Homo sapiens: one gene and its partners. The protein of the gene in region 3 purifies or fractionates together with the protein of the main gene of each other region. This does not show direct contact. Each region holds a gene or a part of one and is shown on either strand. Other genes may lie near its edges. The genes, in order: ROBO1, ADGRA3, CLEC4A, FGFR4, DAB2IP, BCAM and IGDCC3.

Evidence for each region.
Region 1: the proteins of CLEC4A (region 3) and ROBO1 purify together in Homo sapiens (co-immunoprecipitation; 2 studies listed by BioGRID and IntAct, with this or other methods). This does not show direct contact.
Region 2: the proteins of CLEC4A (region 3) and ADGRA3 purify together in Homo sapiens (affinity purification with mass spectrometry; one large-scale study listed by BioGRID and IntAct). This does not show direct contact.
Region 4: the proteins of CLEC4A (region 3) and FGFR4 purify together in Homo sapiens (co-immunoprecipitation; 2 studies listed by BioGRID and IntAct, with this or other methods). This does not show direct contact.
Region 5: the proteins of CLEC4A (region 3) and DAB2IP purify together in Homo sapiens (affinity purification with mass spectrometry; one large-scale study listed by BioGRID and IntAct). This does not show direct contact.
Region 6: the proteins of CLEC4A (region 3) and BCAM purify together in Homo sapiens (co-immunoprecipitation; 2 studies listed by BioGRID and IntAct, with this or other methods). This does not show direct contact.
Region 7: the proteins of CLEC4A (region 3) and IGDCC3 purify together in Homo sapiens (affinity purification with mass spectrometry; one large-scale study listed by BioGRID and IntAct). This does not show direct contact.

Annotation. Positions count from the first base shown.
Region 1 is NC_000003.12:78,630,999-78,634,498, forward strand, and holds part of ROBO1 (roundabout homolog 1 isoform a precursor), read right to left. Parts: intron 3,045-3,500; coding exon 2,937-3,044; intron 308-2,936; coding exon 163-307; intron 1-162. UniProt on the Homo sapiens protein: Receptor for SLIT1 and SLIT2 that mediates cellular responses to molecular guidance cues in cellular migration, including axonal navigation at the ventral midline of the neural tube and projection of axons to different regions during neuronal development.
Region 2 is NC_000004.12:22,411,567-22,415,066, reverse strand, and holds part of ADGRA3 (adhesion G protein-coupled receptor A3 precursor), read left to right. Parts: intron 1-1,252; coding exon 1,253-1,466; intron 1,467-1,676; coding exon 1,677-1,885; intron 1,886-3,500. UniProt on the Homo sapiens protein: Orphan receptor that may have a role in planar cell polarity pathway.
Region 3 is NC_000012.12:8,136,362-8,139,107, forward strand, and holds the end of CLEC4A (C-type lectin domain family 4 member A), read left to right. Parts: intron 1-426; coding exon 427-542; intron 543-1,778; coding exon 1,779-1,926; 3' UTR 1,927-2,246; downstream 2,247-2,746. UniProt on the Homo sapiens protein: C-type lectin receptor that binds carbohydrates mannose and fucose but also weakly interacts with N-acetylglucosamine (GlcNAc) in a Ca(2+)-dependent manner. Involved in regulating immune reactivity.
Region 4 is NC_000005.10:177,089,915-177,093,414, forward strand, and holds part of FGFR4 (fibroblast growth factor receptor 4 isoform 1 precursor), read left to right. Parts: intron 1-475; coding exon 476-739; intron 740-830; coding exon 831-911; intron 912-1,023; coding exon 1,024-1,190; intron 1,191-1,770; coding exon 1,771-1,894; intron 1,895-2,406; coding exon 2,407-2,597; intron 2,598-2,731; coding exon 2,732-2,870; intron 2,871-3,223; coding exon 3,224-3,417; coding exon of another isoform or gene 3,418-3,491; coding exon 3,492-3,500. UniProt on the Homo sapiens protein: Tyrosine-protein kinase that acts as a cell-surface receptor for fibroblast growth factors and plays a role in the regulation of cell proliferation, differentiation and migration, and in regulation of lipid metabolism, bile acid biosynthesis, glucose uptake, vitamin D metabolism and phosphate homeostasis.
Region 5 is NC_000009.12:121,783,332-121,786,030, forward strand, and holds the end of DAB2IP (disabled homolog 2-interacting protein), read left to right. Parts: 3' UTR 1-204; coding exon of another isoform or gene 205-214; 3' UTR 215-2,199; downstream 2,200-2,699. UniProt on the Homo sapiens protein: Functions as a scaffold protein implicated in the regulation of a large spectrum of both general and specialized signaling pathways.
Region 6 is NC_000019.10:44,812,103-44,815,602, reverse strand, and holds part of BCAM (basal cell adhesion molecule isoform 1 precursor), read right to left. Parts: intron 3,441-3,500; coding exon 3,212-3,440; intron 3,126-3,211; coding exon 3,055-3,125; intron 2,354-3,054; coding exon 2,257-2,353; intron 2,166-2,256; coding exon 1,983-2,165; intron 1,452-1,982; coding exon 1,315-1,451; intron 1,000-1,314; coding exon 843-999; intron 1-842. UniProt on the Homo sapiens protein: Transmembrane glycoprotein that functions as both a receptor and an adhesion molecule playing a crucial role in cell adhesion, motility, migration and invasion.
Region 7 is NC_000015.10:65,368,003-65,371,502, reverse strand, and holds part of IGDCC3 (immunoglobulin superfamily DCC subclass member 3 precursor), read left to right. Parts: intron 1-3,500.

The DNA of each region.
Region 1 (3,500 bases), on a different chromosome or scaffold from region 3:
GAGAATTTTTACTTCCTGCTGACCAGCACTATTTTATTTAAAGGCAACTGTTTGTGGACCTTAGGAATCAGTCTTCTCTTGACCACCTAGTATAATAATTGCTGAAAATGGGCTGAAACAATCATATTACACTGTTTACATCTGTTTGGATGCTCCTCTTACCTTTCATCTACAGAAATGTTGTACTCTTCGCTATTGCTGTGTGGAGGAGGATGTGCTGGGGGAGGAGGAAGCAGGTCTGCCCAGTTCATGCCACCCTGTTTTGGTACCTTGGGTGTTCTTGCCCCTTTCTTGTGCCCCTGACTCCCTAGAAAGGAAATAAAATAGAAGCCATTGATCTCTGGCCTTTAAACTTTTTCCATTAGTCACAAGTTAATTATTTTTTGTAAATATGATTTTATAATTCATTTATATATACAGAGATAAACATGCTTTTTCATTAATTTTAAACAGAACTTTGTACAAGAGAACATGCAAGGTACTGCCATGAATAACTGCAAAATAAATAGCAAAAAAGCAATAAAACCATGAATGAATGTTTCAAGTCATATCATTAATAGTGATCTTCCTGCAGCAATTAATTGCATTATGGATTATCATCTCAAACAAATGAGCTGTAGATATATTTTCTCGAGTGCCTTTCTATTATTTAATTGCTGGAACTTAAAATACAATATGATACAGATACGATCTATTAGAGTTCCACTGTTGCATTAAATCACTGAATATATATAATTTGTACTTGTCCATTGAAATGTTTTAGGCACAATGAAATTACTAGTTCCCTTCAGAAAGGCAAGTACAGATGAAATAATAGCTGGAATAACTGATAGAACTAATGACAAAAGAAGCAGAAAAATGATTTTTAAAAGGGACAGAAGTGTTTTCAGCCACTGTTTCTGTACAATGATGGCTTATGGTAAAATGATGTTGCTTGAACATTCTTAGTAGTTTGACATAGCCCAATCATTCAAGTGCTCCAGTGTTCTCATTTTAGATCTGGCATATTTTTTAAACACAAGAGGCTATATATTTGAGAGCATTTATTTTAACAAAAACTTTAGGTCAACAAATATTTTGGGACAAAATATCCCCTTTCCAATATGTTATATTTTTGATTCATATGTGAATTATAGACAATGAGTCTATGATTATTTTTCTCATAAGTTCCCTTTATATCAGTGCATTATGTTGGCCTTAGTTTTTTAACCCTATCCAATCCTTCTCCAAGTCATGTAATATATGAATCAGGTCTGATCATATTCAATGAGCCTTGATTTTTTTGTCACTTGGGAATTTTCAGTCAAATGGCAGTGTTTGTTAAGCCAGATGTTCTTGTACTGGTAGGTTACCACACTAAGCGTGGGCTAGGGACAGGCTGTTATTAATAAACTACGATTATCAGTCCTATGTGTATGTCTCTCACTTCTCTCGTCCACCACTCCGGTGTCCAGCATTGGGATAACTGTGCATGTGTTGTAGACTAGACATTAACCCACATCTTCCTCTGGATTTCCTGATATACATCTACTGTAGCAACTCCATCAGTCCGGAGAGGCCTATCACAGATCTCTCCTATACCTTATTTACTTGCTTTGTTCTCTTCCCTAATTACCATCACGCATCTTTACATCTTTTTACCATATATTCACAGAATATCAAATGATATATAGCAGTAGAACACCCAGATCTAGGTATCTAAGCTGAGGGATGCTGAAGGTCAATTAAAGATTAATAACCTAGAATCATTGTTTATTTTCCCATTAAGATATGGTTTTCTCTATGTGACTAAAAATTCAAAGATCAAATGGCATAAGATAATCAAATATTAAAATATTTCATATGATTTTCTTAAAAGTAGATCCTTGAAATATTTCTCTTAATTCAGGATTGACTTAGCTTCAAAAAAGAAGTCATTTAATAAGATGTTAATTGTTAAAACAAACAAATAACATATAATAGAATCAGAGTAAATCTAAAAGGTAAAGGGCCATTTCTAAGCTCCCTTAATTCCAACAGAAACACAGGCTAGACAATGCCAGACCAGCGTGTTAGTTAAGGGAAAACTGTAAAATGCAAATGCCATATTCATTACAGAAGAAGGGTGGAGACTCTTGGCTAAAAGCCCCTAAGAACAACTTTAATCCAGTTGCTGGGAAGTGGCATTTCTACCCTCTCCTGGAGAAACATTGCTAGAGTCAAGATCAGTCGGTTTTGTTCTCATTGTGGTGTGATGTGCCACATGTTAGTTCTAATAACGAACTGCCTTTAATTAGAAAAACAGGACTTAAGTACCCAGCAAGCTCCCATCTGCAGCCCCTATCAGGAAAACAGCTGGCAAACAGCTGTAACAGCATGAAGACCACAGGGAAGAGGCCTCAATGTGGCTTTGGGAGGCACTTACAGACTGAGGTTGGGAGGTTGCTTTACGAGGCTTCAGAGCAAGAACTGAGGGATCGTAGAGGGATGATAAACTGAGACAGGCTCCTATTGTACCTGAATCTCATGTTATTGTCTCTCCGGCTTTTGATTCTGCTCAAGTGTCCTCAAACATTATGTGCTTTTATAGGCTCGTTTCAAATGGCAACATATTTAGCAGGTTAACTCTGTGCAACATTTTTAGTTATATTTTGGCCAACGGGGAAAAAGTTTCAACTGCCTTTAAAGATTAACCAGACATGTTTCTTCTGGCTTTGCTAAAGCTCATTAACAAGGAAGAAAATAGGACACTTAGTCTTTTTGCCAAATAGAACATAAAATGATTTAGTGAGTGGAAAGTCCCTCAAATTGCAGAGACAAGACACATGCCTGAGACTCAAATTACATACAGTGATTTAGACATGTCACCTACATACGTCAGTCCATTAGCACTCAATTTGTAATCTTGGAAAGTACCAGCTTTTTAAAGGAGAAGTTCTTTGGTTCATCTTACTTACCAGATGTACTACTGCCCCGGTCTGAGCTGTTGTAGGATCCTCCTGTGTTCTGGTCGTATGATTGGTTGTATGGGATAGTTGGAGGAACTGTGTCATTTGCTCGATAATCTAGACATATCAGATGAAAAAACAATAAACATTTATTTTCTCTTCATGAGCGATTTCACATCTCTGCTTTCTCTATATTTCTGAGTAACTAAAGAAACAAATTGGACCATTTATTTGCCTTTTTTCTCTTCTATTGTTGTATTCAGATTGTCAGGATATAAAAAGGCTTATACTCCAAATATATATAAACTATAAATAACTTTAATAATATAATATCAATATGATTTTAATAAGAATCACAAAAATGTCTGCAAATCATAAAAAATAAATCACAATACATAAAAATAAAACTGAAACCTGTCAGCAAGGTTATATCTAATAAAAAATATATCTATGATTAAAAAAAACAAATATCTTAATTTGCCCCAGAAATGCTTCTGCTTACTTAGGCAAAGGTGAAAATCCAAATGATAAGCTTGCCACTGGAATGTAGTCAGTAATAATCTGTCGTCTAGT
Region 2 (3,500 bases), on a different chromosome or scaffold from region 3:
TATGACTAATGTGTGCAGAGTGTTGTGTGAGTCCAGAAGAGGAAGCAGCTAATCTGAAGATGCAATATACTGAGGAGATGCAATTAACTGTCCAAAAAAGCCCTGTTTCAAGGACTCTGTATAAAGTCTTCCCCCTGGCTGCCAACGTTTTTCATTCTAATCCACTTTCCGTTACACCAATTCAAAAGTTTGTGAGATGAAAGAATAGTGGAGCATTTCAGGTAGAGATGCTGGTCTGTGCAGTGAGCATGGTGGCATAAAAAGAATATAGGAGAACTTAAATTGATAACTCAGTGTAGCTGTGTTTTAGGTTGTGCTATAGGAGCATTCAGGGGATACATCTGAGCAATAGATTTTCATCAAATTATATGGTGAACTTAGGATTTGGGCTTAGTATTAAACATTGCAAAACCAAGGTGTTATTTAAACTGGAATAACATGATTCGATTTGTTTCTTAAGGGGAAATTCCGGTGAATATGGAATTAGAAGAAGAGAGGTTAGAAGCCAAGAAAAAGATTGTACAATAAATTCTTCAACTATGGAATGTTTTTAGATGGTTAATTGTTCACTTCTTTGGTATATATATATTTTTTACTGAATGCTGAATAATTTGTTATTTAAAAATCCTCAATAAAGAAATCTGAAAAAATTCAGTGATCAGTCAGCATTTTCAGTTGTTCCTATGTGTTATTATTTTTTTTTTCTAAATGTGTTTCCTAGTCTCAAGGAAATTTCTGCTAAGTGTACTGAATCTAAACCTCTATTATGTTTGTATAATTTCATTCTTTTGTTGTGTGGAGGTTTGAATTCATCATAAATCACCTTAAAGTTCCATAAGCCCAAATTAATTATACTCATATTTATGATATGCTACATTTGTGCTTCTTTATCATATTTTATCATTGTAAAATTGATACAGCCTGATCATTGAGATCCTTGATCTGTTTAATGCTATCTACTTCAACATATAATATCATGGGAAAATTAACTTTGTTAATTTGAAACACTTTTCTTGTTTACTTATTTAACTCTTTAAAGTTTGCATTTCTGTTTTATACTTCTTTTAATCTATGTTATGTGGTGTTGACATTTCGCTTGACTGATGATTTTTTTAACTGTTAAATTTTGTATATCCAATTTAAAAAATGAAGTCAACCTAATTATACCACTTTTGTAACTATCTGACATATTTTTTTCTGGTTTCTATGTACTAATGTAGTGAGCTTTTTTTATGTATATATATTTTTTCAGAATACTATTGTGGAGGCTTCTATTCAGCTTCCTCCTTCCCTTTTCTCACCAAAGCAAAAAAGAGAACTCAGACCAACTGATGACTCTCTTTACAAGCTTCAACTCATTGCATTCCGCAATGGAAAGCTTTTTCCAGCCACTGGAAATTCAACAAATTTGGCTGATGATGGAAAACGACGTACTGTGGTTACCCCTGTGATTCTCACCAAAATAGGTTTGTATGTGGCATATGTTATCCTGTAGTCAGTGGACAATAAGGCCTTGTAGTTGACTGTTCCTAAAAATGCTTATTTTAGTGTTTTCTCGTTTTAATGAGTCACTAGTGAAGAAAGATCTTGCAGAGTACCCATTACTGTAGAAGTTGACATTTATAATTGGTTATGAAGTTTGTTTCAGAAATATTTTTATTTCCCATTTTCTCCAGATGGTGTGAATGTAGATACCCACCACATCCCTGTTAATGTGACACTGCGTCGAATTGCACATGGAGCAGATGCTGTTGCAGCCCGGTGGGATTTCGATTTGCTGAACGGACAAGGAGGCTGGAAGTCAGATGGGTGCCATATACTCTATTCAGATGAAAATATCACTACGATTCAGTGCTACTCCCTTAGTAACTATGCAGTTTTAATGGTATGGCAGTTGTTAACTTTATGCATAAACACTATTCTACATTTTTGCTATGCATAATTAAGCTCAAATGAAGTGTTTTTTTGTTTTTTGTTTTTTTTTTTTTTTTACTTTTAACATAATTTGCTCCCTTTGATTATATGAGATGATATGTGTTCTAATTTTGATTTTAAAGGGAAATTAAGTTACTACCAAGTGAAATGTATGGGATTGAGTTTGGTATATAGGAATTTTAAATCAACTTTATAAGTCAATCAGTTCAGTTAGTCTTTGACCTTAAAACTTGGAGAGACTGTTGATGCAGATTCCCTCTGCCCAGAAAGAGTGATTTCATTTGCCGAAGGATACACAGTGAGTAGTGAAAGAACATTTTCCTACTTTGCAATCTAGCGCTGTTTCCCACTACATGTCGTAATTGTTAGACTCTATTTAAATTTAGAATTAATCATGATAATTTCATTTTTGTCATTGCAAGTGACAGTATTGACACAAAGAATGTCTTTTCAGTTTTAATGCCAGTCTAGTGTTGTTTTCTGTTATTTGCCGTTGTTAACACTAATTACAGGTTGAGTCTTATCTCTTATCTGAGATGCTTGGGACTAAAAATGTTTTGGATTTTGGATTTTTTCAGATTTTGGAATATTTGCATTATCACTTACCAGTTCATCATTCCTAATCCAAAAATCTGAAATCCTCCAAGGAGCATTTTCTTTGAAAAGTTTTAGATTTTGGAGCATTTTGGATTTAGGATTCTTGGGTTAGGGATACTCAACCTGTAATTTTTGGGGGGTAAAATAACAGTTATTAATGTACAGGAGCAAGTGTTTTTATTAATGAGGTCTTTAAGTGAATCTGACGTCTGAGCAGATAATTATGAAATAAACCATGCTAGTTCTTATTTTATATTGTAATTATTATAAATACTGACATCAAGGAGTATATTTAGAGTACGGTGGAAGGAATTACTGACGAGTGTGAAAGACATTTCCCAGAAATGGTTTGAGGTTACTCTGGGTGTGAGGAACTTCTATGTTATTTCTGATTCCAGCTGTAAATCTGTTTTCTAGAAAATGTTTTATCAAAGTGCTAAATACCTTGAAACATGATATATTTTACATTTCATGAATTTTTCTTTTCTTAAAAAAATAGCATTTAGCACTAGAAATGATCTTGAAGTAAACCTGAATTATAAATAATTTTCTTTGACTCTTGTATGTTTTTTTTTGTTGTTGTTGTTGTTTCAATTCAACTTATACCTTACCTGGTACACAGGTCAAGCAAGCAGAAAGGTGAATAGATTATTTATCAGAGTAAAGGGATTATCTTTTCATTGACATAATTGAGCATTTTATACAAGTGCAAGCAACATATTTAAACATGTATGTTTATAGACTCGGCTATATTTGTATATTTGTATATATAAAGGACCTTTATTCAATTGGGATTAACTTTAGTGTTGACAGTTTATGATTCTGATTCTCTTTGTAAATGGAAGATGTCTTGATTTCTGTAAGCATGAGTCTGGTTTCTATAAGTTCACATTTTATTATTGTGTAGTCAACTTATATTTATTTTTTGTTTTTTTGAGACAGAGTCTCACTCAGGTTGCCCAGGCTGG
Region 3 (2,746 bases):
CAAGACCAGCTTGGCCAAAATGGTGAAACCCAGCCTCTACTAAAAATACAAAAATTAGCCAGGCATGGTGGCACACACCTGTAGTCCCAGCTACTGGGGAGGCTGAGGCATGAGAATCGCTTAAGCCTGGGAGGCAGAGGTGCAGTGAGCCAAGATTGCACCACTGCACTCCAGCCTGGGACAGAAAGTGAGACTCCATCTCAAAAAAAAAAAAAAAAAAAAATTCCTTCCGTATGTACTGAACATCATGCTTACAAGCGATGTCTTTGATTCTGCCCTGCTCAGCCAGAGATCCCCATTCCTACGTAGAGCTCTAATGCAGCTGTTGCTGGATCCTCTCCTTTTCTTCTTGTTTCTCTAAGGTATTAAGAATTCAGTTTAAGCTGAATACTGTAAAGGCTGTGACTCCTTCTTTTCCCCCCTCAGGATTTCATCTTCCAGAATCTGCAAGAAGAATCTGCTTATTTTGTGGGGCTCTCAGATCCAGAAGGTCAGCGACATTGGCAATGGGTTGATCAGACACCATACAATGAAAGTTCCACGTGAGTATAGAATGAGATAAAAGAATCTTGGGTCCTGGATCATGCAGAGAGCTTAGGGTATTCTAGCTATCAGCTATAAAAGTAAAATAGCTCACTCTTCTTTTAGCTCTTGGGTACTAGGTTAAATAATTTCATTATCTCATTTAATCTGCGCAAGAACCCTATGAGGCACACATTGTTATTTTTCCCACTGTAGATATGAGGAAATTGAGCTTGGAGAGTGTAGATAATTCAGCTAAGGTCACCCAGTGGTGTCAACAATTGTTCTCAAATCAGGTGGATCTTACTGTGCTTTTAACCCGTATATTTACCTGTCTCTACATAGTGAAAACCCATGTTGATTAAGATCATAACCAATTATTAAGATTTAATAATGCTTTTTTTTTCTTTTTTGAGACAGGGTCTTACTCTGTCAACCAGGCTGGAGTGCAGTGGTGCAATCATGGCTCACTGCAGCCTTGAATTCCTGGGCTCAACTGATCCTCCCACCCAAGTCTTCTGAGTTGCTAGGATGACAAGTATGTGCCACCACACCCAGTCAGGCTGAAGATGTAATGCTTCTTATGAAGCAAAAATGCTAAATTCTGATAATCTTATATCTCATATTTATGTAATTCTTTAATTGCATAAATTACATACTTTACATATATTACATAAATTACATAAAATACATACTTTACTGGATTACCACCTTCGATCTTCATATCCACTGTATGAAATAAATAGTGATATTACTCTAGTCCTTATTTTTTAGATAGAAAAACTGAGAATCAGGGAAGTTAAATTACTTGTCCAATAACAAGGATAAGTAGAAGATTCAAAAGATTTTACTAGTTCTCTAGACTTTAAAAACAGTGCATTAAAAAAAGGAAAAAACTCTATTGATAAGTGGGACCAGGGTAAAATCTTTTCATCATACAAGGACACCCTATAGGTTGATGGACCCATAGGAACAGGACATAAGGATGGACAAATAGAAGAGAACCTCTAGAAAATCTATGGTGAGGATATTCAAAGCAGTAAGGTAGAGAACATTGAGTGACATAGGCACAGTTTTCAAAGGAAATGCCGGAAATGCAGATGGAGGAGAAGCTGCATGATGAGTAGCAGAAAGGTGGATTTGGGCATATCTGACCCTATGTTCCATGAAATTCATCCCTCGCTCCTCACCCCTGTCTCTAACCCTTTTCAAAGCTCTGTTTGAAGAAATGCCCTCATCCTTTTTGTCGCTTTCAGATTCTGGCATCCACGTGAGCCCAGTGATCCCAATGAGCGCTGCGTTGTGCTAAATTTTCGTAAATCACCCAAAAGATGGGGCTGGAATGATGTTAATTGTCTTGGTCCTCAAAGGTCAGTTTGTGAGATGATGAAGATCCACTTATGAACTGAACATTCTCCATGAACAGGTGGTTGGATTGGTATCTGTCATTGTAGGGATAGATAATAAGCTCTTCTTATTCATGTGTAAGGGAGGTCCATAGAATTTAGGTGGTCTGTCAACTATTCTACTTATGAGAGAATTGGTCTGTACATTGACTGATTCACTTTTTCATAAAGTGAGCATTTATTGAGCATTTTTTCATGTGCCAGAGCCTGTACTGGAGGCCCCCATTGTGCACACATGGAGAGAACATGAGTCTCTCTTAATTTTTATCTGGTTGCTAAAGAATTATTTACCAATAAAATTATATGATGTGGTGTCTCCTCCTGTCTGGTTTTCTCTTCATCCCTACTATACTGATATATAATTGTATATATATACTGACATATATATATATTATATTTTATATATATATTATAATATATATATATACACTGACAAATAAAATTGTATATATTTAAGGTTTACACTGTGGTGATTTGACATACATATATATTGTAAAATGATTACCGTAATCAAGTTACTTAACCCACACCCATTATCTTACATAGTTAACAATCTTGTGTGTAGTGAGAACGTTTAAGATCTACTCCATTCTGTCCATTGGTATCAACAAACACAAAGCAAGATCTACTCCCCAAAAAATTTCAAGTGTGCAATGCATCATTATTAACTATAGTCACCATCCAGCACATTAGATCTCTAGAACTTCGTCATCTTAGAACTGAAAATTTGTACCCTTTGACCAACATTGCCTGATTTTCTCCACTGCCCTCCATTCCCTCACAACCATCATTTTACCCTCTGTTTCTATGGATTGACT
Region 4 (3,500 bases), on a different chromosome or scaffold from region 3:
CCCTAAGCTGGGCTGCAGAGCTGGTGGTGAGCTCCTTACCTGGGTGTGTGTGCGTGTGTGTGTGTGTTCTGTGCACTGGGTGTGTGACCTAGGAGGTCCAGGCAGCATGTGTGGTATAAGCATTATGAGGGTGATATGCCCCGGTGCAGCATGACCCTGTATGTGGCACCAACAGCATGTGCCTTGTGTGTGTGTGTGTCCGTATGTGTGTGTGTGTATGCGTGTGTGTGTGTGTGTGTGTCTTGGCCACTGTCGTGTGCACTAAATGCTGTGTGTGTGACATGCCCCAAGAGTGTGGCATTTGCCCTGGGTGTGGCATCCGCAGCATGTGGCTGTGTGGGTGTCAAGGAGTGGTGGCTCCTTCAGCATGCGTTGCAAAGTGCTTGTGCCCTGCATGTGCGGTGTGTTCTTTGTACACAGGAGGCTGCCTCAGATGGGGCTGCGGGGTCTGCTGACCTCTGCCCTCTGCCCACAGAGCCCTGCCTGGCTCCCAGCCTGGAGCAGCAAGAGCAGGAGCTGACAGTAGCCCTTGGGCAGCCTGTGCGTCTGTGCTGTGGGCGGGCTGAGCGTGGTGGCCACTGGTACAAGGAGGGCAGTCGCCTGGCACCTGCTGGCCGTGTACGGGGCTGGAGGGGCCGCCTAGAGATTGCCAGCTTCCTACCTGAGGATGCTGGCCGCTACCTCTGCCTGGCACGAGGCTCCATGATCGTCCTGCAGAATCTCACCTTGATTACAGGTGGTAAGAGACTCTAGCAGGGAGTGAAGGGATGCCTGGGGAGACAGACCTGCCCCTCTTGGACCTTAGATGCTTCCCTCTGTCCCTGATGTAGACTCCTTGACCTCCAGCAACGATGATGAGGACCCCAAGTCCCATAGGGACCCCTCGAATAGGCACAGTTACCCCCAGCAAGGTCAGTAGGTCTCCAAGGACTTGTGTCCCCGCTGCTGCTCATCTGATCACTGAGAAGAGGAGGCCTGTGTGGGAACACACGGTCATTCTAGGGGCCTTCCCCTGCCCTCCAGCACCCTACTGGACACACCCCCAGCGCATGGAGAAGAAACTGCATGCAGTACCTGCGGGGAACACCGTCAAGTTCCGCTGTCCAGCTGCAGGCAACCCCACGCCCACCATCCGCTGGCTTAAGGATGGACAGGCCTTTCATGGGGAGAACCGCATTGGAGGCATTCGGGTGAGTCTCTGGGTTCCAAGACCGTCTGCTCCCCCATTTTCATTCCTTCATCAGTCCCCTCATACCTACAAGCATACCTATAAATCAATCGAATGAGTGAAGCGATTGCGGGGCCCCGGAAGGAGCCCTGGACTGTGGACCTGGGCAGCTCTGGTTCCCCTTCTGCTACTCTCTGGCAAGTGACTTAACCTCTCAGCCTCAGCAACTCCATTTGTAAAGGGAGAAGAATCACTGACTGGTTGGTCTGCATAAGCCTTAGCATCTCATCGTCTTGATGAGACCCTGCAGGGTCGGCTCCATGCTGTCATGAGGCAACTGAGTCTCAGAGAAGGCAAGGGTTGGCTCAAAGTAGCACAGCTAGGGAGAGGGAGAGCTAAAATTCCAAAGGCTCAAACCCAAGGCTCAAGCGCCCTGGGGAGCCTACTCCTTTGTGCCATAGTCCTTGGCCTGGGCCTGATGTTCTCAGGGCCTAGAGAGCTTGACAAGAGCCCTGTGGGCAGGATGAGGATCTAGCCTCCTGGTCCTCTGGCCCCCTTGGTGGACATGGTCCGGTGGTCCCGGACACTCTCTCTGCCTGCAGCTGCGCCATCAGCACTGGAGTCTCGTGATGGAGAGCGTGGTGCCCTCGGACCGCGGCACATACACCTGCCTGGTAGAGAACGCTGTGGGCAGCATCCGCTATAACTACCTGCTAGATGTGCTGGGTGAGCGCGGGGCTGGGAACAGGGGAGGCCTGACCCATTTTGGGCTCAGTTGTGCCCTCTTGGTGGGGTCTAGTCTGGCAGGCAGGATGGACTCAGATGAGTCAGGCAGCTTGGTGAGCAGGTGGGTCAGGGGAAAGCACAGGGGTTAGTGTGGGGCTGGAGGAGCAGAGGTCTGCCAAGAGGAAAAACAAGAAGGACATCCAGGCAGAGGGCGCAGCCCGAGCGGAGGGCCTGAGTATAACAAACGCCCTGCACTTGCAGGCCAGCATATTCGTAGGGCGTGGCGTTTATATGGGGAGCCAGGTGGTGGAGGGTTTTGAATGCTAGGCTGAGATGTTGTCCTTGACCCGAAGCAATAGGGAGCCAGGGAAGGTTTAAGCAGGGTAAGCAGGAGACAGACAAGAAGCTGCAGAAAGGTCCCTCCCTTGAACTTGAGGAAGGCTGGAGGGAGGCAAACAGGGTGCTTCTATGGGTGCCGGTGGTCAGGGTTGACTGTCTCGCCCGGTCCCCAGAGCGGTCCCCGCACCGGCCCATCCTGCAGGCCGGGCTCCCGGCCAACACCACAGCCGTGGTGGGCAGCGACGTGGAGCTGCTGTGCAAGGTGTACAGCGATGCCCAGCCCCACATCCAGTGGCTGAAGCACATCGTCATCAACGGCAGCAGCTTCGGAGCCGACGGTTTCCCCTATGTGCAAGTCCTAAAGGTAAAAGGTGCACCCTGCTGCAGCCTGGGCCCCATTCTTCTCCCACCTTGGGTTGGGGGGCTCCCCAGCTTCCCTGTTGGCCACAGTGTGGCCCCAGGCCCTGCTGTGACCCCAGAGCATGTCCCCCACCCCAGACTGCAGACATCAATAGCTCAGAGGTGGAGGTCCTGTACCTGCGGAACGTGTCAGCCGAGGACGCAGGCGAGTACACCTGCCTCGCAGGCAATTCCATCGGCCTCTCCTACCAGTCTGCCTGGCTCACGGTGCTGCCAGGTGAGCACCTGAAGGGCCAGGAGATGCTGCGAGATGCCCCTCTGGGCCAGCAGTGGGGGCTGTGGCCTGTTGGGTGGTCAGTCTCTGTTGGCCTGTGGGGTCTGGCCTGGGGGGCAGTGTGTGGATTTGTGGGTTTGAGCTGTATGACAGCCCCTCTGTGCCTCTCCACACGTGGCCGTCCATGTGACCGTCTGCTGAGGTGTGGGTGCCTGGGACTGGGCATAACTACAGCTTCCTCCGTGTGTGTCCCCACATATGTTGGGAGCTGGGAGGGACTGAGTTAGGGTGCACGGGGCGGCCAGTCTCACCACTGACCAGTTTGTCTGTCTGTGTGTGTCCATGTGCGAGGGCAGAGGAGGACCCCACATGGACCGCAGCAGCGCCCGAGGCCAGGTATACGGACATCATCCTGTACGCGTCGGGCTCCCTGGCCTTGGCTGTGCTCCTGCTGCTGGCCGGGCTGTATCGAGGGCAGGCGCTCCACGGCCGGCACCCCCGCCCGCCCGCCACTGTGCAGAAGCTCTCCCGCTTCCCTCTGGCCCGACAGGTACTGGGCGCATCCCCCACCTCACATGTGACAGCCTGACTCCAGCAGGCAGAACCAAGTCTCCCACTTTGCAGTTCTCCCTG
Region 5 (2,699 bases), on a different chromosome or scaffold from region 3:
ATCTGGCCAGATGGCTCTGAGCACTGTATCTGCCTTCTCCTGGGGCCCAGCACACCCAGGGCACAGTGGTCCTGTAGGGAGTGCCACCTGGTGCTCACCCTGAAAGAAAAGGTGATCCTTCCTCTGAGTGATGGTTTAAAAAAAGATTCTAACGCCTGCAGGCCCTGAGAAGGTGGATAACTGTGATTTTTTTTCCTTTCACAGTATGCATTAGAAACAAAAGCCCGCTTGCTCGCTTGCTGGAACACAGGGGCCTTTTAAGTTGAGCGTGCGCACTGCATGGGAAATAGCGGCCCTGGAGGATGTTAGACTTGCTCCCTCTCCAAGACAGCAGCAGCCTGCACCTGCCCCGTGTGTGTGGCCGGCCTCCTCCTCACCCTTCCCGGCCCCCGGCCAAGGACCCAGGCGCTGCATACAGGGGAGGGGCGCACCCCACAGCTGGGGCCGGTTTTCCTCAGCTCTAGGCTGTTCTGTAGCTTATCTGCCCCTCCCCCACTTTCAAGACAGATGAGCAGGAGCTTGGGTCTCTCTCGGCCCCTGTCTGTTCCCAGCCCCTGCAGATTCTGAGCAAAGGCCCTGGGTAAGAAGGGTGGGAGTGGGGCCTTTGCCAGCAGAGCCAGGGCAGGGCGAGCTGCAGGAATCACCCCTCTGCCCCTGCAGCTGGAATGTGCCACAGAGGCCCCACCTGAAGGGTGGATGTGCTGGAGGGGTGGCCCAGAGCCATACTGCGTCCACCCTGAGCTCGGGGACAGGTGACAGTGGCTGCTCTGGGAAGGGGCTTTTAGATGTAACCTACAATTCAGTTAGGCTAGAGACAGATGCTGGTGGAGGAAGGGCTGGGCCACCAGGGATCACAGACCACAGGAAGATGGGAGGTGGAAGCAGAGGCCCTGCCCCCACCCCTTCCTGTCTCACTCTTCTGTCTTGTCCCCACCCATGCGCCTTCGTGCCTGAGACCAGGGTGGCCACACAGGCAGGGCCTGGCTCCAGTCTCATCCTCCCATTGCCCAGTGAGCCCTGCTCTTCTCTCCCCAGCCCCCTCCCACCGCTGCCTCGTAGAGTGACCTCGGACAGAGCCCCCCTAGCAATACAGGGAGGCTCCCGGGGCCTGGACAGGCGGGCTCGGAGGCTACCCGCTGTGGCCGGTGCCAGCTGCCCTTGCAGGGTGGGTGAGCTCTCAGGCCGAGAGCCTTATTTACCTAGTGCAAAAACTGTAAAAGTGTACAGACTCTTCACAGATTTTTATCTTAATTGCAAGTCTGCCGATTTTGTAAATGTTCTTGGTGTTTGACTGTAATGTAACTATCTCACCTAATGGTTGTACATATCCTTTGGTCCTGGTGCTGCCGAGGGCTGGCCGGGACTGCTGCTCTCCCAAGGGTTTTATTTTATTTCTGAATCTAGAGAACAGTATTGGGCAGGAGGAAAAGGCTTGGTGTCTGCGGGGGGTGTCTTCCCTGCCTGTGGCATTTGTGTGTTGGCTTTGCAGCTGCTGTCTGAGTAGTGGCCACTGGGGTGCCTTCACTGGGCCAGTCAACGGGGGGCTCCTGCCCAGGCCACAGAGAACCTGAGTTCCCGGGAGCTGGGCCCTGCCTGCAGCCAGGGCTGGGGTTGCCAGAGGCCCTGGAGGGAAGGACAGTCCCTGCTGGGGAAGAACAGCCCCGGGGCCCCCTGGTCACCGAGACTCAGCCTCTGCTGGAGAAAGCCACGCCCTCCCTGCTAGCACAGAGGCCTGACTGACTTTTTTGCTTAACTTCCATGTTCTGGGTGATGGAAACTGCCAAACCTCCTGTCAGTGAGGACTCTTTCCGACTGCCCAGAAAGTGGGGGTGGAGGACCGAGGCTACAGCTCCACACGCCCCGGTCCCCCAGAGCATCTGCCCCAGGTACACCTCCCCCTGCGCCCCGCACGACTGCGGGAGCCAGACTGTCCAGGGAAACAGCCTCTCTCTTTTCTACACACTCAGCCACAAAGCCCCCCAGCTCCCACACCGCGTCCCAGCTCCCCTCTTTTGTAAGTATGTGAAAAGGAAAAAATGCAAACGTTGGAGTTTGGGCTGGAGCTCCTCCCTCCAGCTGCGACTTTTAACTATGTAATAATGTACAGAGGAAGCTGTTGGTGTTCTAAGACTCTGTGTGGCTGTGCAATTTCTGTACATTTGCAATTAGAAATATTAAAGATTTATTTAGCTATTTTAAGCCCGACTCGTGTCTCCATTCAGCTGTGTGTTAAGGGATGACCCTGAGTCCGGAGCGGACACTGTCCTTTACCAAGGGGACCCCAGCATCTGGTTCACTCTGGTGGCATTCGTGGGCAGGGGATACCCCTAAAGCCAGTGGTGGTGGTCTGGCCAGCTTGGCTCACTGGGAGATCTGGGATTGCCCCCTCCTCCTCTGGGTTGAGGGGTCTCTGCACCAGGGAGTAGAGCAGTTGTCCTCTTAAAGGCTCTTCTCTGGCTCTGATACGTTTGGAAGAAAAGTCTGCTGGTCCCACCACCTCCTGGGAGACAGGGTGGTCCCAGCACCTTCACTGCAGCACACACTGGCTCTTGCCAGGCCCTGCATTAAGCGCTTTCTCATCCACTGAAATCTGGCTCTGGGAGGGAAGAGACCAGGGAGAAGAGGTGGGCCCAGGTCCCAGCAAGTCATGGCAGGGCTGGACTAAACATTTCCAAGCTTTCAACACCTTGAAAGTCAGA
Region 6 (3,500 bases), on a different chromosome or scaffold from region 3:
ATCCAAGTCAGAATCTGCTTCTCAGGAAAGCAGACTGCAACACCTGCCACCTAAAATAATCCCCTCTCCTGCTCTCTCTCACTGGTGATATCACCTGTAGATACACTACTGTTACGAAAGGGCTTAGTTAGCATTTACCATCTGTCTCCCCTACTGAAATAACAGGGGTGGTCTGTCTTGTTCACAGATGTGTCCCCAGCATCTGGCGCAGGGTCTACCCCAGGAAGGGATATGTAAGAAGTGCCAAGGGAGAATACAGCCTTTCCCCAGGGCCTGGATGCGAATGAACTGAAAATCATTCTTAGAAGCCTGGGATTCAAGGGATTGGTGAGAAATAGACGGTAGGAAGGATGGGCAGTGAAGGTAGGAACCAGAGGAGCCTGGGGGGTGATGAGGAGATAGCCTTGACTGGGGAGAAGGATCAGCTAGCTAATGGTGGAACTGGCCAGGTGGACCTTGAAGGCCATGGTGAGACACCTGGGCTTCTCCCAAGGGTACTGGGGAGCCATGGCAGATTCTGAGCAGAGGAGGGTCAGGTCTGTGCTATGGAAAGAGCTCTCGACAAGATGCGGTGGCTCACTCCTGTAATCCCAGCACTTTGGGAGAGCAAGGCAGGAGGATCGCATGAGGAGTTCGAGACCAGCCTGGGCAACGTAGCCAGGTCCTGTCTCTGGGAAAAAAAAAAAAAAAAAAACAACCAAAAAAACCCCCAAGAAATGCAGAGAAAGGGTTGAAGGCAGAGTGTTTGGGATGACAGAGCAACTTCAGGGCTGTAGGGAGGAGGGCGCAGAGGCACTGATGCCAGGGCCCCTCCTGCCCGCCCGTTCACCCAGGGCTCTCACAGGCCACGCGCAGCTCCAGCGTCTTGGAGAGCTGCACGTCATCTGCCGCGTCGTAATCCTCCACTCTGCAGCCATAGGTCCCGCTCTGGCCCCGGGTCACTCCCTCCAGGGTCAAGTTCCCCTCGAGATTCACATTCAGCACTTCCTCCTGCTCATCCTGGGAGACGGGGGACGAGGAACCAGGCTCAGAAGCCACCCCGGTTCAGCGGGCTCATGCTAGGTCAGAAGCCACCAGGTTAGTGTCATGCTAAGCCAGAATCAGGGGTCAGGGGCCATCAAGTCAGGTGGCATGCTAAGTCCTGACTCTCTCAAATCAGGGGTCAGAGGTCCTTTTAGTTCGTGGGCCACCAGATCAGGTGGCTGCCTAAGCCATGGGGACTCCCAGGTCCCACATTAGAAGTTATGCAGGTTAGCAGGTCACAGAGGTCAGGGGCTGGGGGGTGGATCCCAGAGGGACCCTTGGGTGGGTCACCTGAAGGCGGAAAAGCGTATACTCCGGGCTGGGGCTGCCGTCCCCCCGGCAGAGCAGCTGGACAGTGTCACCCTCGCGTACCCAGCCTGCTGGGGTGGACGGGCTGCCCACCCAGAACTGCACGTGCTCCGTGGGATCTAAGGGAAGGGCAGGGAGATGGGAATTGTGATCAGGGGAAGGGTCAAGGCTAGAGGACAGGCGAGAGGTCAGCCCTGCATCCCAGGTGAGGGCTATGGCGGGTCAAAGGTTACGGGTCATAGGTTTCAAGCCTCAGGTTCACAATTATTCTGAGTGCCAGAGTTCAGAGGTTGAAATAAACTAAGAGTATAGGTCAAGAGTCAGAGGTCCGTATGGGCGATGGGTCAGTGTGAGACTTGGAGCCAGATGTCATGGGGGGACCCAATTCAGTGTGAGAAGGTGGAAAGCACCATTTAGTCATAAACTTCATGGGGTCCAGGGTGCTAAGTGGAGGTCGGAGGTCAGAGGTCAGGATGGGGCTTGTGCGACCAATTGAGGTCAGAGGTCAGTGGCCAGCACTAGCACATTTTTTTTTAGCATGAAGTAGGGAGGCAGAGGGTCAGAGGGGAGTGTGAAGCCCCCGGGTGGAGGGTCAGGCCTCATGAGGTGTGGAGCCTGAGGTCAGAGGTCAAAGGCCAGCACAGACTCACAGTGCAGGGTGAGGTGGAAGGTGGGGCTGTCCAGGCGGCCGTGGCGGCCCTCGGGCAGGCTGTAGTGGGCGGCGCAGTGGAAGCTGGCGTCTCGGTCATCCTTGCGGAGCCGCAGGTAGAGGGTGCTGGTGAGGGAGAGCAGGCCCGAGGCCTCCCGGACCGTGCGGCTGGTCATGTAGCCCTCTGGGAGAGATCGGGGGAGGTGGCAGTCAGCCAGGCCATAGCCCCGCCACCCACCCCAGCCCACGTCCCGCCGCGCTCCTGCGCTGCTCACCTGGGTTCATCTCTACGGGCACCTCCAGGCGCTGCCCGTTGCGATACCACGTGATCTTGGGGGCCGGGTTCCCGTTCCGGCTGTTGCAGGTGGCGATCTGAGGCAGACACGGGCATGGCCCTGGGCTTGGAGCTGGGACTCTGAAGTCGGGGCTCCTCTCTCAGGAGTTCTCCCCACTCAGACTCATGAGCCGGGCTCCTAACTCCCGACTCTCCCAGGACCCAGGAGTCCAAATTCCTAGTCCCCGACTCAGACTAAAGAGTCCAGGCCTCCAGCACCATCCTCCAGGGACCAAGGATTCTGGGTCCCCCAGCTCTCTCCTTCCTAGGACACAGGAGTCTTCCCCCTCTGCCCTTCCTTTCTTTTTTCTTTTCTTCTTCTTTTTTTTTTTTTTTTTGAGACGGAGTATTGCTCTGTGGCCCAGGCTGGAGTGCAGTGGTGTGATCTTAGCTCACTGTAGCCTCTGCCTTCTGGGTTCGAGTGATTCTCCTGTCTCAGCCTCCCGAGCAGCTGGGATTACAGTTGCACACCAACACACCCAGCTAATTTTTGTATCTTTAGTAGAGACGGGGTTTCATTATGTTGGCCAGGCTGGTCTGGAACTCCTGACCTCAGGTGATCCGCCTGCCTCTGCCTCCCAAAATGCTGGGATTACAGGCATGAGCCACCTCGCCTGGCCTTACCCCTCCTCCTTTATTACCCAGGGGTCCCCAGCCCCTCCTCCCTCAGACCCAGGAGTCCAGGGCCCTGTCCCCTCCTCCTCCAGGACCCTGGGGCCAAGGTCCACCCGAGAGGTACCTCCTGGGCAGAGTCCTCCATCACAGACAGTGTCCCTTTGTTGGGGGAGACCTCAGTGGCCTCTGGCTTTGCTGTGAAAAAGACGTTCACGTCAGGAGCCCCTGCCCTGCGCCCCTCCCTGCCTGCCTCCCTTCGGGGGATGCCCGAGGACACTTACCAAACACGTTGAGCCGCGCAGTGGCCTCAGCAGTGCCTGCCGCCCCTGCCCTCACCACGCACACGTAGTCTCGCTCGTCGCCCACCTGGGCCTCAGCCAGCACCAGGCGCCCCTGGGAGTCCAGCTGGTATGGGGGACTGCGGCCCCGGGTGTCGTGCATTGTGACCTGGAGCTCAGAGCCCTGCATCTCAGCCGAGGCTAGGCGGGGGCGAGCTCCCGAGCGGTCGGTCTGTGGGCGCGGGGCAGGCTCTCAGCTCCGGGTGTCCCAGCGCTCCTCAGTCTCTCTCTC
Region 7 (3,500 bases), on a different chromosome or scaffold from region 3:
TCTGAGTAGCAAGGGGCTAGCAGAGACCACACCCATGTCATAACCTCCGCTGTGGGGATTTTCAGGCAGCATAGTGAAGCCTTTGGAACAAGGGCTTCAGGGCCAGACTTCCATGGGTCTGAACCCCAGCTCTGCCACTCAATGATCAGTGCCCTTGGCAGGAGTTACTTAGCCCTCTTGAGAGTCTGTACCCTCATCTGAAAAAATGTGCACCATTCCATCCATCTGTCAGGGCTATTGGAGGAGTAAATGAGGTGATGGGTCTAAAGCACCTGGCACAGGGCTTGGCATGTAGGAAATGCTAAGTATTATTGTTGGTGCTCAGTATTGCCCACTAATTTAGGATGAGGTCCCAGGTGTCTCAATCCTGGCTGGGTTCTCCAAGAGCCAGGATTGCCCTCACTCCCAGCCTGGGGCCATCTTGCCTGGGCAGGCCCAACAGTGGTTTAAATGTGGGTTGTGGTGGCAAACAGACCTGGGCTTGGTGGGCTTGGGCCTTGGCCCCACCACCTGCTAGCTGTGAGATCTTGGCCAAGTCACTTCACCTCTCTGAGCCTTGGCTTCTTCATCTTTAAAATGGGGGAATGTGATGGCTCATGCCTGTAAATCCCAGCACTTTGAGAGGCTGAGGCAGGAGGATCGCTTGAAGTCAGGAGTTTGAGAGCAACCTGGGCAACAGAGCAAGACCCTGTCTCTACTAAATAAATAAATAAATAACATGGGGGAGGAATAATATAAAATAATAAAAAATACCAAGGAGAAATATTGTGAAGATTACCTATGATAATGTGCAGGAAGAGCTTAGCACAGGGCACAAAGGCAGCATTCCTTAACTATTATTAAGGTACTAATTTTATATATATATATATATATATATATATACACATACATATATATACACATACATATATATACATACATATATATACATACATATATATATACACACACACATATATATATAAATATATATATATATATATATATTTTTTTTTTGAGACCAAGTCTCGCTCTATCACCCAGTGCAGTGGTGCAATCTCAGCTCACTGCAACATCTGCCTCCCGGGTTCAAGCAATTCTCCTTCTTCAACCTCCTGAGTAGCTGGGATTACAGGTTCCTGCCACCATGCCAGGCTAATTTTTATATTTTTAGTAGAGACAGGGTTTCATCATGTTGGCCAGGCTGGTCTCTAACTCCTGACCTCAAGTGATCCACACACTTCCTCCGAAAGTGCTGGGATTACAGGTGTGAGCCACCGTGTCCAGCCAGGTACTAATAATATTAACTATTATCATTTTGAGGAGCTAACAGAGGTGAAAACATGTTAAATTATGAGCTCCTTTAGTTGTGGTATCATTCCCGGAAAGGTCCCTGGTGACTCCAGACTCCTAGAAAGAGGCAGTGGGACATGGGGAGAGGAGAGAAAGTCCAGTTCTAGTCCCCTGCTCTCTCCGCCTCAATAAGTCACCTAGCCTCTCAGGCCCTCAGTTCCTACTTCTGAAGTCTGAATCATTTTAACTTGTCAGAGGGAAGGCAGTTTCACCAGCTATTCTAGAGTCCCTTTTCAGCAAAAAGGCTCATGGTGTGTGGCTCTGGGGGCAGGGTCTGGGTGGAGGTCTGTGGAACCAGGTTGGAGTGGGGGTTAGGAGAACTGCGGGCAGGAGCTGCTGGGGAGTACAGCCTGGTATTTAGGGTGCCCTGTGTAGGGAGGTGGGTCATGGAGGGAGGTAGTTCCTGGCACAGTGGCTGGTAACCCTGGAGGCCTCTATCACCTGGAGGTTAGTTGCTCAGGCCTGGTGTGTGGAATGCAAGTTCTTCTCTCCTTCTTGAAGGAATGAAGTTCTTCTCCCGCTTAACTGAGGGAGGCCTGAGGAAGTCTCCCCCGCAGCTCCTCAAACACACACATCTGCCTGTCCATTAGGACAGGAAGCTGCTGTCCCCAGCGATGAGTGAGTGCCCATACCTAGGCCTACCCTCATGTCAGGGCCTCACCTGTACCCAGCCTCAGCTCATAGGTAGGTGCAAATGGATGGGGTTCAGACACTTTAACCTGCCAGTCAGCACTGCACAAACTGACCCTTTCTGACACCGCTGAGAAGTTGTGTGGTAGAAAAGCCCTTGTCTGGACACCAGGGATCCTGTGTGGCTGTGGACAAGTTGCCCACCCTCTCTGGGCCTTGCTTTTCTGATTATAAGGTGAGGGGGTTGGACTGAGGCTCACCTCTGCTCTGGGGTACGAAGGCTTCCTTCCATCCATCTTCAAGACGTGCCTGCCTCCCCTGGGCCTCCTCCAAGTCTATTTCTGCCTGGTTCTTCCCATACCTGATCCCTCCCCAAAGACCATCCTGCTTACAGTCATATCTTCCTCCCCTTCCTAAGGCAGGGAGCATTTGTGGTCTGTGGCATTCACGCTAAACCCTCTTGGTGATGGCTGCTTGCATTGTTAAGTAACTGTTTTGTGGCTGGATATTCCATCTGTCTCCTCAACTAGATTTTAAGCTCCTAAAGGGCTTCTTTCTTTTGTATTTCTCATGTCCCCTGCCTGTGGAGCCTGGTAAAAACTAAATGAACATGTGGCCTTCTGGGACAAAGCTGTCTCTCTGTCTCTCCTCTGTTTCTCTCTCTGCTTCTCTTTTGCTCCCCACCCCACCCCCCTTGTAATTGATAGCACAGCTCAAAGGAACAGAAGCTTGTGAACGGGGAGGATGGGCAGGGGAATATAATGCACGCGGGGCAGGATCCTGGGGTGCTGCTGCCGCGTGTTTATCTCTAGAGGAACTGAGATTCTCTCTTCCTCACCAGATGGGGTGTGAATCAGAGACTAAATTGCCTGGTACCCCCTCCATGCAGGGGTCTTGGGTCTCCTGCCTTGGGCTTTACTCTCTAGCTAGACAAGGCCTATGTCCCCAGGCTCATTGGCCCCCAACTGTAGGGGGAGGGCCCCCTTACTCTGTGTGCAGGGCCTCCACTCACCCCCACCCGCAGAACTTGAGTGTGGAAGTCGAACGCTTCTGGTTCCCACACCTTGGCTCCACTGTCACAGGCAGCCAGCTGGCCCCTTAAACACAATGTGCAAATCTTCTCTGTTCCTGTTCCTGGCATTGTCAGCGGCCAGGCGCCTTGGCTGGGAATGTGGGCCGGTGAATAGGAGAGGCATTTGCAGCCTGCAAATGAAACAGGCCCCCAGCCCCCCTTAACCCTCTGTCCCCTCCCCACCCCCAGGGAGAAAGGACTTTTTCACTCCTGGCCTTCTTGTATTGCCTTTCCCTCTCCCCTCTTCTCTCCAGAGTGCCTGCAGGCTGGTGTGTGTGTGTGTGTGTGTGTGTGTGTGTGTGTGTGTGAGTGAAAGAGAGAGAGTTTTCCACAGTAGCTTGAAGGCTGTTCTCCATAGCTTTCAATAAACGTAGAATGCAACAGAAGAGTACCCAGGATGAAAAACCAAACAGCTCACTGCTGTCTTTGTTTAAACTGGACTGAGTGATTCCACCAAAAATGTCTG